Linked DNA regions of Homo sapiens: region 2 is linked to region 1. The links come from fine-mapping of genetic effects on gene expression. A gene starts in region 1. The other region holds a variant in brackets. All regions are shown on one strand. Distances are from middle to middle.

What was found.
Region 2: its variant is fine-mapped to the expression of GGA2 in whole blood (INTERVAL, PIP 0.90).

The regions. Positions count from the first base shown.
Region 1 is chr16:23,506,678-23,514,677 of GRCh38, reverse strand. It overlaps GGA2 (golgi associated, gamma adaptin ear containing, ARF binding protein 2), which reads left to right and starts at 4,184. Exons shown (of 17, transcript NM_015044.4): 1 at 4,184-4,357. The coding sequence starts at 4,267. RefSeq lists silencers at 3,908-3,957, 4,028-4,257, 4,328-4,497.
Region 2 is chr16:23,385,583-23,395,117 of GRCh38, reverse strand. COG7 (component of oligomeric golgi complex 7) reads left to right here. Exons shown (of 17, transcript NM_153603.4): 15 at 1,771-1,885; 16 at 2,595-2,738; 17 at 6,032-6,625. The coding sequence ends at 6,198. Among named protein-coding and RNA genes, the nearest start is that of COG7, 63 kb to the left of the region's middle. The variant C/T (reference allele first, on the strand shown) is at 4,624.

The DNA.
Region 1 (8,000 bases):
GAGTTTGAGACCAGCCTGGGCAACATGGTGAGACCTTATCTCTACAAAACTAAATAAATTAGCTGGGAGCGGTGGTGTGTGTGCCTGTTATCCCAGCTACTCTCTGAGGACTGAGGTTGCGAAGATCATTTGAGCCTGGGAGGTCAAGGCTGCAGTGAGCTCTGGTGGTGCCACGGAACTCCAGCCTGGTTGACAGAGCAAGACCCTGTCTCAAAAAAAAAAGGCTAACAAGAGAAAAGCATAACAGATTTATTTAATTAAAGTTTTACAGGCCGGGCACAGTGGCTTACTCTTGTAATCCCAGCATTTTGGAAGGCTGAGGTGGGCGGATCATTTGAGGTCAGCAGTTCAAGACCAGCTTGGCCAACATGGTGAAATCCCGTGTCTACAAAAAAATTCCAAAATTAGCCAGGCATGGTGGCGGGGTGCCTGTATTCCCAGCTACTCGGGAGACTGAGGCAAGAGAATCAATTGAACCTGGGAGGCAGAGGTTGCAGTGAGCCAAGATCGAGCCACTGCACTCCAGCCTGGGCGACAGGACTTCATCAAAAAAAGTTTCATCAAAAAAAAAAAAGTTTTATGTTGACATGGGAGCTTTCAGAAATAAAGACCGAGGGAAGGCTGTCTACTTTTATATTTAGGTTTGATGACCAACAGCCAGGTAGAAATAGGATTGAACAAAATGGTATGAGTGATCTATTAGACTTAGGTGGGGGGATCCAGCAAGGCCTGTCCAAATTCTTCTTGGCTTACCTGTATATCACTCCTTCTTCCTAGGTATAGGGCAGGAATAAGGGGGCATGACCACCTGTTATCAGACAAAGTAGCTCAGATAATTGCTTTTTTTTTCTTTTCTTTTCTTTTCTTTTTTTCTTTCTTTTTTTTTTTTTTTTTGAGACAGAGTCTCATTCCGTGCCCAGGCTGGAGTGCAGTGGTGTGATCTCGGCTCACTGCAACCTCCGCCTCCCAGGCTCAAGTGGTCCTCCTGCCTCAGCCTCCTGAGTAGCTGGGACTACAAGTACACACCAGCACACCCAGCTAATTTTTGTATTTTTTTGTAGACACGCGGTTTCACCATGTTGCCCAGGCTAGTCTTGAACACCTGGACCCAAGTGATCTGCACGCCTCAGCCTCCCAAAGTGCTGGGATTACAGGTGTGAGCCACCATGCCCGACTGAGAATTTCTTTATGGCCAACTCTTAAGCAGAAATAAAGGAAGGCTGGAGTAATATGTCTAGGTTTTGTGGCTGGCTTTAGGGGAGAGGGGTTTGAGTTTCCCTGACCCATCTTGGGAAAGAGGAATTGAGTTTCTGTGGCTTGCCTTGGGAGAAGAAAGACGGGCAGGAGGTCAGAGAACCTTTGCTCTGAGGCTGCTTCTGAGGGTTTCCACTGTCTTTGAGTTCAAAGTACTCGCTATGCCAAAACACCATGCTCTGGGATATGGTTTTCTGAGCTCCAACAATGTAAAAATGTTAAAGGATTGCAGGTGCTTAAAATAAGTAAAGTTTCAGGAGTTGAAGGATGGTCCTTGGCAAACTGTAGAGCTCATGCCCCCTGTAGCATGTGGAGACTCTAGTCACGTCCAGGTTTTGTTGAAATGTGGAAAGCCGGGTCCAGTGTTGCCAGATGTTCAGAATCTTCAAGAGATAAATATGTATTAAAGATTTTATTTAGGCCAGGTGCAGTGGTTCACGCCTGTAATTCCGACACTTTGGGAGGCCGAGGTGGGCGGATCACCTGAGGTTAGGAGTTCGAGAGCAGCCTGGCCAACCTGGTGAAACGCTGTCTCTACTAAAGATACCAAAATTAGCCGGGTGTGGTGGTGGGCGCCTGTATTCCCAGCTGCTCAGGAGGCTGAGGCAGGGGAATCACTTGAACCCAGGAGGCAGAGGTTGCAGTGAACTGAGATTGCACCATTGCACTCCAGCCTGGGCAACAGAGCGAGACTCAAAAAAAAAAAAAAAAAAAAAAAAAAAAGATTTTCTTTAACTCCTTAATGAGGAAACTGGTGAGATGTTCAAACCAGTCCAAAGAATGGACATCATGTATAGATCAGGAATGTTGAAATGGATGTGCAAGTGGGGGCAGAACTGGTTTTTCCACAAGAAGTCTGTGTGTTCCCAGAACAGTATTCATTTGCTTGTGTGTGGACAAGAATCATCACCCATTGCTATTCAGTTATCTACAAGGAAGAATTTGTGCTTCTGTATGGCATACGTACCTATGGTCTAAGAAGAATGTGTGTTCTGAGTTCCAAGCTACAGAATCACAGAGTGGCCAGCCCAGAGGTTCACTCTTTATCTAAGAGGAACATCTGAACCCTTGGCCCCATCCTGTGGAACGCAGGCCATACGGGGGATCAAGGCCCTTTGGGGTTAAATTGAGGTTGCCAGATGGAGGTTGCTAGGGGAAGGGTGCTAGTTGAAAATACTATATAAACTGATGCTCTTTACAAATGGTAGTGGTCCTCCTGTCCAGCCCACTGCCACTAGACCACCCCGTAAGTCCCCTCAGTAAACCTGCCTCATTCAGTGGCTCTGGGTCTCTTCTTCCGCCTTTCAAACATGGTGCCATCCCTACTGAAGTTAATAGGGGTACGGCACAACAGCTTCAATGGAAAATTATGTGTTGTCTAGACAGCACAACCTTCCAGGTTCTAGCCTTTCTTTGTCTTTGAGAAGTCTCATAACTCTGTTAAGTTGATACCAATGCAAAATAATTCTTGCCTATAAATAGGTAAATTCCGCTCACTGGAGGGACAGCTCTCACCCCGGTCGAAAAGCCAGTTTTGCCTCCATTTGCACATTCGTCTTATCTTCCTTTTTTTCCAGATAAATTTGCCCTTCTTTGACTTCACTTTTGGATTGATTATAACATCTGCTTGGTTCCCTCATGTAATTAAATAAAATATTTAACACGTATTCATTTCATAATTATGATAATCATGACATACTTTTTTGGGAAAATTATCTTTTAACAGAATAAGCAAGTAAATAATACATCGATGGTGTACTGTGTGATGCAGAAAATAAAGCAGAGTATTGAGGAATGCAGGACATGTTAGTTTAGAAGTGTTCCAGGAAACCAGGGAGGTGGAGGTTGCAATGAGCCGAGATAGCACCACTGCACTCCAGCCTGGGCGACAGAGCGAGACTCCATCTGAAAAAAAAAAAAAGTGTTCCAGGAAAACCCTTCTGTGAATAAAAATGCAAGCACATAGGCCGGGCGTGGTGGCTCACCCCTGTAATCCCAGCACTTTGGGAGGGCGAAGCGGGCAGATCACGAGGTCAGGAGTTCGAGACCAGCCTGGCCAACATAGTGAACCCTCGTTTCTACTAAAAATACAAAAAAAAAAAAAATAGCTGGGTGTGGTGGCATGCACCTGTAGTCCCAGCTACTCGGGACGCTGAGGCAGGAGAATCGCTTGAACCCAGGAAGTGGAGGTTGCAGTGAGCCGAGATGGCACCCCTGCACTCCAGCCTAGGCGACAGAGTGAGACTCCGTCTCAAAAAAAGAAAAAAAGAAAAATAAAAAATAAATGCAAGCACTTTGGGAAGTCGAGGTAAGAGGATCTTGTAGCCCAGGAGTTCGAGACCACCCGGGCAACATGGTGAAACCCAGTCTCTAACACACACACACACACACACACACACACACACACGGTGAAACCCAGTCTCTAACACCAGGAGTTCGAGACCACCCGGGCAACATGGTGAAACCCAGTCTCTAACACACACACACACACACACACACACACACACACACACACACGGTGAAACCCAGTCTCTAACACACACACACACACACGCCAGGCGTGGTGGTGCCCTCCCCTAGTCCCAGCTCCTCCGGAGACTGAAGCGGGAGGATCGCTTGAGCCTAGGAGGTGGAGGCTGCAGTGAGCCGTGATCGCGCCATTGGACTCCAGCCTGAGTGACAGAGCAAGACCCCGTCTCTTAAAAAATAAAAATGCTAAAAGAATTATTCGTGTTCTTCTGAAAATCAAATTTAACTGGGCGTCTTGTATTTTATCTGGCAACCGTACGGTGAGTGGTCTTAGAAGACCAGCGCTGGGTGGAGGGATCTGGACTAAGAAATGTTCCGGCCGGTCCCGCGTGGAGGGGGGGCCTGGGGTGGGCGTGGCGCCAGCGGCCCCGCCCCGTCACGTGTCCACCGCTCCTGCCGCGCAGTCAGCAGAGGAGAGCGCCAGGACGCTACAGCGGCTGAAGAGGCAGTGGCGCCCGCGGCCGCAGCGTCGGGGCTGGAGCGATGGCGGCGACCGCGGTGGCGGCGGCTGTGGCGGGAACCGAGTCGGCCCAGGGTCCCCCGGGCCCGGCAGCGTCGCTGGAGCTGTGGCTCAGTGAGTAGCCTGGCAGGCCTTCGGCGCAGCCGCTGCGCCGCACGTGAGGCCTCGCTTCCCGCCTCCCGGGGCCTTGCTTCGGGGCGGGCGGCCGCAGGGGAGGCCGGCGGCCGGGTAGGGGGCCTGGGCCCGGCGCGGTGGGGAAGATCGCCCAGGGGTCCCCCGAGAGGAGCCCCAAGCATCCGCCGGGGCAGCGGCCCCCTTCTGAGCTCTGCCCCTCCCCCTCCGCCCACCCCCCAACTTAGCAGCAGCACAGGACCCCGACCCCCACCCCAATGGCTACGTGACCTGCGCTTTCCCCTGCGCCAGGCACTGTGCTCACAGCGGCTTAGTCCTGCTTAATCCTCATTCCCACCCCGAGCTGGCTTCTATTATTAACCCCACTACGGAAGCGGGGACCTTGAGGCTTAAGGAGACGCAGTCGTGCAAGACATGCAGTCTGTTTGGGGCTGAGAAAGATCTCTATCTGGCTACCGCGTCAAAAAGAAATTTTTTACCTTTTGTGTTTACTTTGGCCAGACTTTTTTTTTTAAACACACACACACGTGTGTGTGTGTGTGCGTATATATATATATGTGTGTTTTTTTTTTCCTTTAAGAGACGGGGTCTCATTATGTTACCCTGGTTGGGCTCAAACCCTTTGGCCAGAATTCTTCTGCATGTCTCCTGTAAGCTTCACAGTCATCTTAGGGGTTATTATTATCTCCGTTTTACCAATGAGGGATTGAGGTTCAAAGGGGATAAAGAATATTCCCCTTGTACCCAGCTCTGCTAGGTGCCAGGAACACTGAGATGCATAACACAGGGTCCTTGCTCACCAAAACATTTTTTAGTGGGTACAAGCCGGCAGTCACATCACCTTACTAACGGGATTGGCGAGGAGGAGGAGGGCGTTCGTTTCACCTGTGGTGGTAGGAGTTGGTTTACCTGGGGGTCGTCACAGCCGACCGCATTCCAGGCAGAAGAAACTGCGTGTGCAAAAGCTGGGGACAAGAGAATGTGGAGCACTCCGGGAACAAGTAGGTCAGTCCGCTGGAGTGCAAGCCTAAAGCTCAGGAATCCGGGAAAGGGGCTGCACGGCTAATTGGGGCGAGATCTTCAAGAGCCTTGTGTGCTGCAGAAAGGAGTTTATGTTTTATCCGAGGGCGGGGTTGCTGTTTGGGAGTTTTCAGCCGGAGAATCTGATCAAGGAAGCCTGTTAAAGGCGTCACTTGCAGCCATATGGTGCTAAATTGGGCGGAGAGGGTGAGACTTCAGGCAGGGAGAGCGGCTAAAAAGCTCTTTTGGTGGTGGTTGGGGGCCGCAGGAGGACTAAGGCAGTGGGGAGAGGGAGAAGCAATGAGCAGGCGTAGTCAGCAGCCTCGGTGCCTTGGAATGCAGACAGGGGACAAGGAGAAATCTAGGCTAGATCGCGGGTTTCAGGCTCGAGGAACTGGTGGGTTACAGATGCCTCCCCTGTGAGGAGGAGCTGGTTTAGGCAGAGAAGGTTGAGATGTGGAGTTTGAGGTGCTTGTGGCATAGTCAAAAAAGAGATGCCCTCTAGGCAGCTGGTTGGCACTGGAGAGGGCAAGTGTGGGACGTACGGTTTGGGAGTCTGGTTCATTGGCAGTGAGCTTGCGGGAGAAGCTTGCGTATATTAAGAGCAGAGGTTTGGAAAGAGAGCGTGGGGAGCCCCAGCATTGAAGAGGCAGATGGGAAGAGAAGACTGAAGGCTGAGCAGAAACAGGCAGGGGGAGACCTGCAGGGGCACCCACTGATAGCAAAGGAGGGATGTGGTTGTAACGTAGTTTTGCTCCTTAAAGATGGAGGAGAATGAGGAAGGAGAAGAGAGAACTTTGAATTTGGTAACCAACCAGTTATTTAATGAGACATCCTTGAGTTAAACAGTAGAGACAGAAGGTAGTAGTTTTAGGAGGCAATGGAGAACAGAAGGCTTAGACTGGAGTTGCAAAAATTAGAAAAAAAGGCTGTTCATGCCTGTAATCGCAGCACTTTGGGAGGCTGAGGTGGGCCAATCCTTTGAGGCCAGGAGTTTAAGACCAGCCTGGCCAACATGGTGAAACCCCGTCTCTACTAAAATACAAAAAATAGCCATGTGTGGTGGCGCACACCTGTAATTCCAGCTACTTGGGAGGCCGAGGTGGGAGGATCACTTGAACCCTTGGGGCAGAGGTTGTGGAGGTGGAGCCAAGATTGCACCGCTGCACTCCAGCCTAGGTGACAAGGCGAGATTCTGTCTCAAAAAAAAAAAAAAAAAGTAGCCGGAGTAAGAGAAAGTAGCTGCCTCAGGTGGAGGAGATAAAAGGAGTGCCTGGAACTGAGGCTGCCCAAGGACACAGTTCTTCAACTCCAGCTTTTTTTGAAACAGAGTCTCACTGTGTCACCCAGGCTGGAGTGCAGCGGCATGATCTCAGCTCACTGCAGCTTACCCCTCTCCTGGGCTCAAGCATTTTTCCCACATCAGCCTCCCCAGTTCTAGCTTTTTTTAAATGTATTTTTATTTATTTATTTATTTATTTTTGAGATGGAGTCTTGCTCTGTTGCCCAGGCTGGAGTGCAGTGGTGCCATCTCGGCTCTCTGCAACCTCTGCCTCCTTGGTTCAAGCAATTCTCCTGCCTCAGCCTCCCAAGTAGCTGGGATTACGGGCACACGCCACCACAACCGGCTAATTTGTGTGTGTGAGAGAGAGAGAGAGAGATGGAGTTTCATTCTTGTCCAGGCTGGAGTACAGTGGCACGATCTCAGCTCACTGCAACGTCCGCCTCCCAGGTTCAAGCAATTCTCCTGCCTCAGCCTCCCAAGTAGCTGGGATTACAGGCATTAGCCACCATGTCTGGCTAATTTTTGTATTTTTAGTAGCGATAGGGTTTCACCATGTTTGTCAGGCTGGTCTCAAACTCCTGACCTCAAGTTATCTGCCAGTCTTGGCCTCCCGAAGTGCTGGGATTATAGGCATGAGCCTGGCCTAATTTGTGTTTTATTATTATGGTTTTTTTCATGGCATATACATTGTATTAAGCTCCAGCTTTTGGGGGCAGTGTCCCAAAGTTGCTAGATCTTCCTGTTTTTCAGGAACGGCTAGAACCTATATTCTTAAGTGAAATATCGTGGGTTTTCAGAAGTTGGTGCCTACTTTGGCCCATAATTTGGGGAAGGCCAGGCAGAATAAATGTGTGGGGAGGGTGCAGCCAGTGGCCTCCTCAGCTGTTTTTCATGAGTCTTGAATGTAGAAGGAGGGGGAGAGAATAGCGAGAGGGAATTTAGGAGTAAAGGAGATTATTAGAAGGAGAGGGGGACATGTGAGCCCCTCTTCATGTTGATGTTCCATTGGGGAACTGCCCCTCCCCCATTCTGGGTCCAGTGTCCCATCCATTGCAGAGGGGCCTGAAGGTGCTGAAGGAGCTCAGAGCCAGAGCAAAAAGGGGGACCTGGCCTCACAGAGAGGAAGGACACCTTTTGTTTTTCTGACTGTCTGGCGAAGGAGATCAAGATGATTGCACATGCAAACAAGTTCGTCAGTGCCACCATTGCCACCTGAGTATTGGGTGCTCAAGTGGAACAGGGGACTTGAGGAAGGTGGGGAAGCGTTGGGGAGTGGCTGGTGAGGCAAACCGAAGTGGGCCCACCCGGACGGAGAGCTGG
Region 2 (9,535 bases), 120 kb after region 1:
GGGACGCCAGTCCAGGCACAGTGGGTCACGCTTGTAATCCCAGCACTTTGGGAGGCCGAGGTGGGCGGATCACCTGAGGTCAGGAGTTCAAGACCAGCCTGGCCAACATGGTAAAACCCCGTCTCTACTAAAAATACAAAAAAAATTAGCCAGGTGTGGTGGTGGGCACTTGTAATCCCAGCTACTCGGGAGGCTGAGGCAGGAGAATTGCTTGAACCCAGGAGGCGGAGGTTGCAGTGAGCCGAGATTGCACCATTGCACTCCAGCCTGGGCAACAAGAGCAAAACTCTGTCTCAAAAAAAAAAAAGAAAAAAGAAAAAAGGAACACCAAACTAATAATGGATGTTTACACTTACACAGCCAAACCATATTGAATGTTTGGAAAGAAGGGCATGATCATCCTGTAGTTCTCTGGTCTGGGTAGATTTTCGAGTCTGTGTTAACTTCTGGACACTACACCCTGAAAGGAGCCCGCTGTTACGTAGACATGTGTGAGGCCAGATTGAGAAGCTCTTGCTTTGATAGTCTCCTGACTTTTAGTTTACAGAGTTAATTAACAGTGACAGGAATGTCATGGAATGAATATGTAGCAGGAAGAAAAAAAAAACAACAACAGGCAGAAAGACCTTTTAAAAACATATATTATCATTTTGAAACCTGAAAAGTCAACCCCCTTATTTTGAAACAAAACACATACTTAACCTTAAAACACAAAACAATGAATTACAATAGAAATAGGAAACAGTGGTCTAAAATACACTCTTGGCATCACGTGGATATCTGACAAACACATGACCAAGACTGTGCTAATTGTGGGCATGTCCTAAATGTCTTTTAGGACAATTGCAAATGACCTTTTGCAATTCCCCACCAGCCAAGGTTTTGTCTATCTTTAGTTTCAAGAGTTTATATTATGAAAACAATATAGTTTTTTCTCCAAAGTAATTTATAGTTATAAATGGCTTTTTTTCAAACAGAATTCCTTTCTTCTTCTGGTTAAATTATCTAGGAGGGAGAGAATCAGATCCAAATCCAGAAGACAGGTTTTTTTTTTTTTTTTCTGAGACAGAGTCTCTTTTTTTTTGAGACAGAGTCTGCCCAGGCTGCAGTGCAATGGCATGATCTTGGCTCACTGCAACCTCCGCCCCCGCCGAGTTCAAGTGATTTTCCTGCCTCAGCCTCCCGAGTAGCTGGGATTACAGGTGCCTGCCACCATCCCCGGCTAATTTTTGTACTTTTAGTAGGATAGGGCTTCACCATGTTGGCCAGGCTGGTCTTGAACTCCTGACCTCAGGAGATCCATCCGCCTCGGCCTCCCAAAGTGCTGGGATTACAGGTGTGAGCCACTGTGCCTGGCCTCAGAAGACAGGATTTGAATTCTTGCTTGGCCCCACACATTCTGACACTAGTATCTTACTGGTTTTTCACCTATGAACAGTAATAATACTTATATTTACACAATGCTTCAAATTTTACAAAGCATTTTGATATCCATTACTTCATTGGAGATAGAGATTGTGTTGAATGCATTTCAAAAATATTGAGGTCATTATAAGAAGGATGAATCTATAATCTATATGCAAGCTACCAGTGATTCTTTTTTAGGGTACTGCCATAACAAGCATCGCCACATACTAGAAAGATCAGACTTGGGATCACCCGAGGTCTAGCAATTTTGTCTCTCTGCCGTTTGCCTTCACACAAATGTACCCATAAAGTAATAACCCGTATGTGTCAATGTCAGGCTAACAGCGCTTTCTTTTGTTTCAGATCGGGCAGTACATCATGTCCCTCCCCCTGAATCTTGAGCCATTTGTGACTCAGGAGGACTCTGCCTTAGAGTTGGCATTGCACGCTGGAAAGCTGCCATTTCCTCCTGAGCAGGGTAAGCGGGGACCGTTTCTGGCGATGTTACAAGTCAAGCTGTCAGTTTCCAGGGTAGAAACTCCAGATGACACCTTATCCTTGGGCTCATTTGTCACCAAGTCCTGTTTTTTTTTAACCTTCTAACATGTACTTTTTGTACACATGCTGTATCTAAAACAATATCACAACTTGAAAAATCTATAACCACATCCCACTGCGGAACGCACTGGTATTTCCACTTTCGCTTGTGCCTTCTGGCTCTGCTCTGTAAGCAGATGGTATTTTGTATGTAACTTTGTATTCTGTATTATTGTTATTATTGAGACAGAGTCTTGCTGTGTCACCTAGGCTGGAGTGCAGTGGCGCGATCTTGACTCACCACAACCTCCGCCTCCTGGGTTCAAGCAATTCTCCTGCCTCAGCCTCCTGAGTAGCTGGGACTACAGGCGCGCACCACCACGCCTGGCTAATTTTTGTATTTTTAGCAGAGACGGGGGTTTCACCATGTTGGCCAGGCTGGTCTCGAACTTCTGACCTCAAATGATCCGCCTGCCTCATCCTCCTAAAGTGCTGGGATTACAGGCATGAGCCACTGCACCTGGCCCTAAGATGTAACTGTTTTCGGTTTCCTGTGTTTGCCATTGAGATCAGAAGCTTCCTGGTACTTTGGTGCATTCAGCAGCTACTGCAGGCCTGTGTTTTCCTTGGTGACCTCCTTTTCTTTTCAGGGGATGAATTGCCCGAGCTGGACAACATGGCTGACAACTGGCTGGGCTCGATCGCCAGAGCCACAATGCAGACCTACTGTGATGCGATCCTACAGATCCCTGAGCTGAGCCCACACTCTGCCAAGCAGCTGGCCACTGACATCGGTGGGTCCCCACAAGACAGGCGGTGGGAGGGACAGCTCTTGCCTGCTGCATCTGTCAGTTTCTCCTTTGCCCTCCAGGAATCTCATCCCAAGTCTTCCCTTAGCTTCAGCTGTGGATTTGGCTCTGAAGCTGGTTGAAAATTCAGGTTCTCCAGGCCCTGCCCCAGAGATTCTGACTTAGCAAGACCGGGCTGAAGCTCAGACATCTATGTTTTCGAAGAGGACTTGAGAACCGTTGAGGGGAGCTTCAGTGAGATAAGATTCAGCGAGTCCTGCAGCCTGGCCCCACCTGGCCCGCTCCATTTGTGCCATAATTCCCAACCAGTGTTTAATGAGCTCTTACTGCATACCAGGCATGCCTGGCGCTGGACCAAGCACTCGCACCCATCGTCTTATGTAATTCCAAACTCCCCTGTGAGGTGGGTGCTCTCTTCTCCATCATACCGATAGGGAACGGAGGCCCAGGGCAGTTCCATAACAAGGCCATGTGGCCAGGGTCACTTTGTGGTCTCCATCCAGATAGCATCCTGCCTGCCAAGTCAGTGGGCGTGTCCCCTTTGCTCCTGCCTGCCCTCTTCACTGGAGGGCCTCACTGCCCAGGTGTACTCTGAGCATGGGGCTACTGCTGGCAGGTGGCAGGGAGTCTCCCCAGTCTCTTGATGCCATTCCAATACCTTGTCTGCTCTTTAGCCTAACGCACCTCTCGGGGTGGTCAGGAGAGCGGGTGGTAGAAGCCTGAAAGATCAGCTCCCTGGGGACACAGCCAGAGCTTCGTCCTCAGTGACCACAGGGCTGAGCCAGGCTCAACCGGCTTCTGGCTCTTGTTTTGCAGAAGAAGAACTAGAAGCAAGGTGCTTTCCTCCGGGTCCCAGAGCTGTTAGTGATGGAGCCAGGCCTGGGATCCAGCTTTCCTGAGTTCCTGACCCCTGCTCATTTCATAGTCAGCTCTCAGCACTTACCAGAGGAACAGGCAGCCTTTTGGCTACTGCCCTTCAGAGAAAGAGAGATGAGAGAATTCAAATGCGTGTTGGTGTTCCCTGTTAGTACAAGCAGCAGCAGGGGGAAGAACTGGAACTAGTGAGTGGAGTGAAATCTAGGGATTGCCCCTCAGTTTCAGTTGTCCTTGTTATTCCTCCCTGTTAAGCTCCCCCTGCAGATTCATTTCTTCACTCATTCAGCATTGCTCGAGCATCTGTGTGCCAGCTGTAGTTCTAGGAGATAGAGACAACAAAGCTTTAGGCAGCTCCCATGCTTAGTGAGCTTACACTGTAAGGATGTACGGTTAGGGGCAGGGAAGGTAAGGCTAGTATATGAAACTGACAGGGTATAAGGCGACAGAGTGGTGAGGTCTGTGGCAAAGCATGCACACCTGAAAGACATTCAAATTAAGCATGAGCACAAACAGAACAAAAAACACTGCTCGCCAAACAAAAATGTCCTAGTAGACTGTGGGCCCGCTCTTTGCAGCTCTTGGCTGACAGTCAAGTGGAGCTCACGGTTTTATGGATAAACTTGTAAAGGAGTAAGTACGTGCCTGGCGGCACCTTTGCTGGGAAGCAGCTCTTCCTGAGTCAGCCGTGACAGAGCAGGCATCTCCTCCTGGCCCTGCCCTGAGTGGGGCCTAAAAAGAAAACACAGGGGGCTGGGCACCATGGCTCATGCCTGTAATCCCAGCACTTTGGGAGGCCGAGGCAGGAGGATCGCTTGGGCCTAGGAGTTTGAGGCCAACCTGGGCAACATAGTGAGACCCTGTCTCTACAAAATATTAAAAACAAAACAAAACAAAAAACACAAGGAAAGTTGAGGCCTTGCCTGGAGCTCCACTTTAGTCAAGGAGAAGAGATGAACCCAAGATCAGAAAGTAGCCGGTGGGGGGGCACTGAGCG[C/T]GGTGGCTCATGCCTGTAATCCCAGCACTTTGGGAGGCTGAGGTGGGTGGATCACCTCAGGTCAGAAGTTTGAGACCAGTCTGGCCAACATGGCGAAACCCCGTCTCTACTAAAAATACAAAAAATTAGCCAGGCGTGGTGGTAGGCGCCTGTAATCCCATCTACTTGAGAGGCTGAGGTAGGAGAATTGCTTGAACCCAGGAGGCGGAGGTTGCAGTGAGCCGAGATCGCAGCATTGCACTCCAGCCTGGGCAACAAGAGTGAAACTCTGTCTCAGAAAAGAAAAAAAAAAAAAAAAAAAAAACTAGCCAGGGGCATATCGGGTGGTGCTGTCTTCTAGTCTTTCCAAGCATGAACTGGGAGGAGCTGGAGAAGGCTTTGCAAGGCTTCCCTTGGGTTGGGTTGCACTGCCCAGGCAGGAGGGAAAGGCAGCATTGATATATTGATCACCTGCGACACATCAGGTGCTCTCATGTTCGTTTCCCGCTTCATCCCCTATCCATGCTGCCGGATGGGTGGTAACTGTGGACAGATGGAAGCAGAGACTCAGGGAGGTAGAAGGGCTTCTCTGAGGTCACACCTGGCTGCACCTGGTTTGCTCCCCCATGCTGTCTGTTTTGCCCAAGCTTGCCTGGTGGTTAGAACCACCGGGGTCGCTTTGTAGAATGACAGAACCCTAGAATCCTCTCTTGGGATGCTCATCAACCTAGTCTGGGGGTAGGCTCAGAAATCTGTATCCGATTGTATCCCCAGTGCCTCAGGGGTCATCTGGGAAATGTGGAAACCTGTGTTATACCAGGGTCCCACCCCAGACACTGTCCTTGTCTTCACTGCGGCGTTCTGACTGGAGGTCTTTAGTAACTGCTCAGACAAGCTTGTGTGTCTCCTGACCCTCTGGGTTTTCCAAGTGGTCAGTGGATACCCTGGGGGCCAGGGCTTGGAACCCAGGAGTCCCCAGAACAGAGCTTTGGGTGAGGTCAGCTGGTCCTTCAGACTGGTGCTGAAGGCGGGTGTGTGCATGTGAGTGTGAGTGTGGATGTGAGAGTGTGTGCATGTGAGTGTGTGTACATGTGAGTGTGTGTGCGAGTTTGTGTGAGTTTGGATGTGAGAGTGTGTGTGCGTGTGTGTGCATGTGAGTGTGTATGTGTGTGGTTGGGGATGGGAGTGATGTTGGTTAGTTCTTTATTAAATTAGAGTTCCTAGACTCGAGCCAAGCTCACAGTCTGGTCTGACACTGTGGGAAGAACCTGGTGAGTAAAGGGCCTATTGAGGGCAGGGTTGGCGCCCCACATCTAGGGACTTGGCAGGGCAGCTTCTCTGTGTCGTATTCAGGGGAGGCCCTGTGGGGCTCTGACCTGCTTGGTGCTGAGTCTGTGGAGCTCTGTCTGTCTCCTCTCCGCCCCCACAGACTATCTGATCAACGTGATGGATGCCCTGGGCCTGCAGCCGTCCCGCACCCTCCAGCACATCGTGACGCTACTGAAGACCAGGCCTGAGGACTATAGACAGGTCAGCAAAGGCCTGCCCCGTCGCCTGGCCACCACCGTGGCCACCATGCGGAGTGTGAATTACTGACCCCACCACACACCGGACCACCAAGAGAGCCAGGGCTGCTGTTTCGCGACTCACCAGCACAGATTTGCTCAGAAACTCTGCCCAAGATTGGGCAGAAGTTACTTTAAAAAGACTTGGTTCAGCTGGTCACGGTGGCTCACGCCTGTAATCCCAGCACTTTGGGAGGCCAAGCCAGATGGATCATGAAGCCAGGAGTTCGAGACCAGCCTGACCAACATGGTGAAACCCCATCTCTACTAAAAATACAAAAATTAACAGCAGAGCGAGACTCTGTCTCAAAAAAAAAAAAAAAAAAGACTTGGTTCATTTGTATAATCAAAAAGAGTTGTAAATTAAAGATGTATTATTTATCAGAGAAGACTTTTTAGATAATTTTTTTAAAGGATCAGATCTTGAAAATGGAATAAATAACTACTGTGAAATGCAAGAAGACTGTTTCCTTCTTCTTTTTTTTTCCCCCTCACTCTTTCACCCAGGCTGGAGTGCAGTGGTGTGATCTTGGCTCACTGCAGCCTCCGCCTCCTGGGCTCAAGTGATTCTCCCCCTTCAGCCTCCCGAGTAGCTAGGATTACAGGCACCCGCCACCACGCCCGGCTAATTTTTGTATTTTTAGTAGAGATGGGGTTTTGCCATGTTGGCCAGGCTGGTCTCAAACTCCTGACCTTAAGTGATCTGCCTGCCTCAGCCTCCCAAAGTGCTGGGATTACAGGTGTGAGCCACTGCACCCAGCCTCTTACTTCTTCAGTGCATTTTTTAGTGCTTCCCACATGTCTGCCATGTTGTGCGCACTGGGAATGTCTAGGGATATGGGTCCTCCCCTGTAGCTTATGTTCAGTGGGAGAGGGAGGGAGAAGAAGGTAAATGGGGATAATTTCAGAGGTAAGTGCTAGCAGAAAAGCGGGTGTCAGGGTGGAAGCTGGCACTGCATAAAGTGGGCAGCCCGAGACCTACAGAGTAAGAGCCATGTGGCAGAGAGTGAAGGAGGAGGTGCGTTCAGGCCCAGGGAGTGGTGCAGACCGGGCCCTGAGGCATGTCCAAGGGCGGCTGGGGCAGGAGAGGAGGGGCTTCATGGAGGAAAGGGTGAAGCAGTATCCCTGGAGAAGCTGGGGGCCAGATCATAAGGGGGCTCGTCAGCCATGGTAAGGAATTAGGCTTTCAGTTTTTTCCTTTTTTTTTTTTGAGACAAGGTTTCACTCTGTCACCCAGGCTGGAGTGCAGTGGCACAATCGCAGCTCACTGCAGCCTCGAATTCTTGGGCTCAAGCAACTCCCCCGCTTCAGCCCGTTAAATAGCTGAGACTGCAGATGGAGACCACCATACCTGGCTAATTTTTTAAAACATTTTTTGTAGGAACGGGATCTTGCTTTGTTGCCCAGGGTGGTCTCGAACTCTGAGGCTCAAGTGATCCTCCTGCCTTGGCCTCCAAAGTGCTAGGATTACGGGTGTGAGCCACTGTGCCTGGCCCACATTTTTTCTTTTTTAAAATGTATGGTGTATGAACTTCAGTGTTTTTCATTAATAGCGTCTATCTGTTAAGATTATATTTGGCTATAAGTAATGGAATAACGTAATTTGAGTGACTTAAACAGAAATTAATTTTTCTTGATAACAAGAAATAAAAAGAAGTAAAAGGTGGCTGGGCACGGTGGCTCACGCCTATAATTCCAGCACTTTGGGAGGCTGAGGCAGGCAGATCACCTGAGGTCAGGAGTTCAAGACAAGCCTGGCCAACATGGCAAAACCCCGTCTCTACTAAAAATACAAAAATTAGCTGGGCATGGTGGTGCGTGCCTGTAATCCCAGCTACTCTGGAGGCTGAGGCAGGAGAATTGCTTGAACCCAGGAGGCAGAGGTTGCAGTGAACCCAGATAGCGCCACTGCACTCCAGCCTGGGTGACAGAGTGAGACTCCATCTCAAAAAAAAAAAAAAAAAAATAGTGGTGGCTACAGGCACTGATTTAGTGGCTGGTTGGAGTCAGGCCCTGTGATTTGAAACTTAGCCCCATGTGCTGGAGGCCTCATCGTGGCAGGTGACTCTTGCAACTGCAGGTGCTGCATCTGCATTCAGGGAAAAAGGGAGCAGAGAAGGTAGAGCAGCAATTCTGTCCCTTCTATCATGCAAGTGGCGGCTTCCCTGGAAGCCCTGGCCAGCCTTCTCCTAGCCCTCACTGGCTGTTTCTCAGTCATGAGGCATCCCCGCTACAAAGGAGGCGGGAAAGCCCAGGCTGGCTTCTACCAGCGTTTCTCAGCCTTGGCTATTGACGTTTTGGGCTGTACAGCTCTGCGTTTGACGCTGTTCTGTGCGTTGCAGGCTGTTTAACTTTCCTGACCCACTAGATGCCAGTAGTATTTTCCTAGTTGTGAAACCAAAAATGTCTCCAGAAACTTCCTCCAGTTGAGAAACACTGGCTTAGACCAATCAGGATTTATAGCCTGAGCTGGGCTTATTGGCTGCCTTGATTGGGTTTCTGTTAACAAGAAAGAAAGGGGATGGCAGTGGTGCCTGTCACAGGGGCTGTCATTGGAATTGAGCCCTGCCTGGGTCTCAGGGGCTGGGCTGAGCTCTGCCTCTCTCTGGGATGTCTCACTTAAACCTCACCACAGACTGGGCATAGTGGCTCACACCTGTAATCCTAGGGCTTTGGGAGGCTGAGGCGGGAGGATCGCTTGAGGCCACGAGTCTGAGACCAGCTTGGGCAACATAGTGAGACCCTGTCTCTACAAAAAAAAAATACAACAATTAGCCTGTGGTGGTGCACACCTTTGGTTTCAGCTACTTTGGAAGCTGAGGTGGGAGGATTGCTTGTGCTTGGGAGTTTGAGGCTGCAGTGAGCCAAGATTGCACCATTACACTCCAGCCTGGGTGATAGAGCAACACTCATCTCTATAAAAAATTTTTAAAAATTATCTGGGCTTGGTGGTGGGCACCTGTAGTCCCAGCTACTCAAGAGGGTGAGACAGGAGGCTCACTGGAGCCCAGGAATTGGAGGTTGCAATGAGCTGTGATCTCGCCACTGCCCTCCAGCCTGGGTGACAGTGAGACCCTGTGTCAATCAATCAATATATAAATAAATAAACAGACCTCACTCTAGCCTTGGGAGGCGGGGAGTCTTATCCACAGTGTGGCAAGGTTTAAGGACTTTCCTAGAGCCATTCAGCTACCCTGTGGCAGGGCCAGAGTTCAGAGTGAGCCTGGTGACCGTGGCACCTGTACTCTTGCCCGGCTATCAGGCAGCCTTCCTCATGTGGGACACGGTGGGCACGTGGCGGGACACATCCCAGCGGGCCGGCAGGTCGCCCAGGCCAGCCCTCTGGAGTGACCCTGCCATCCCCAAGG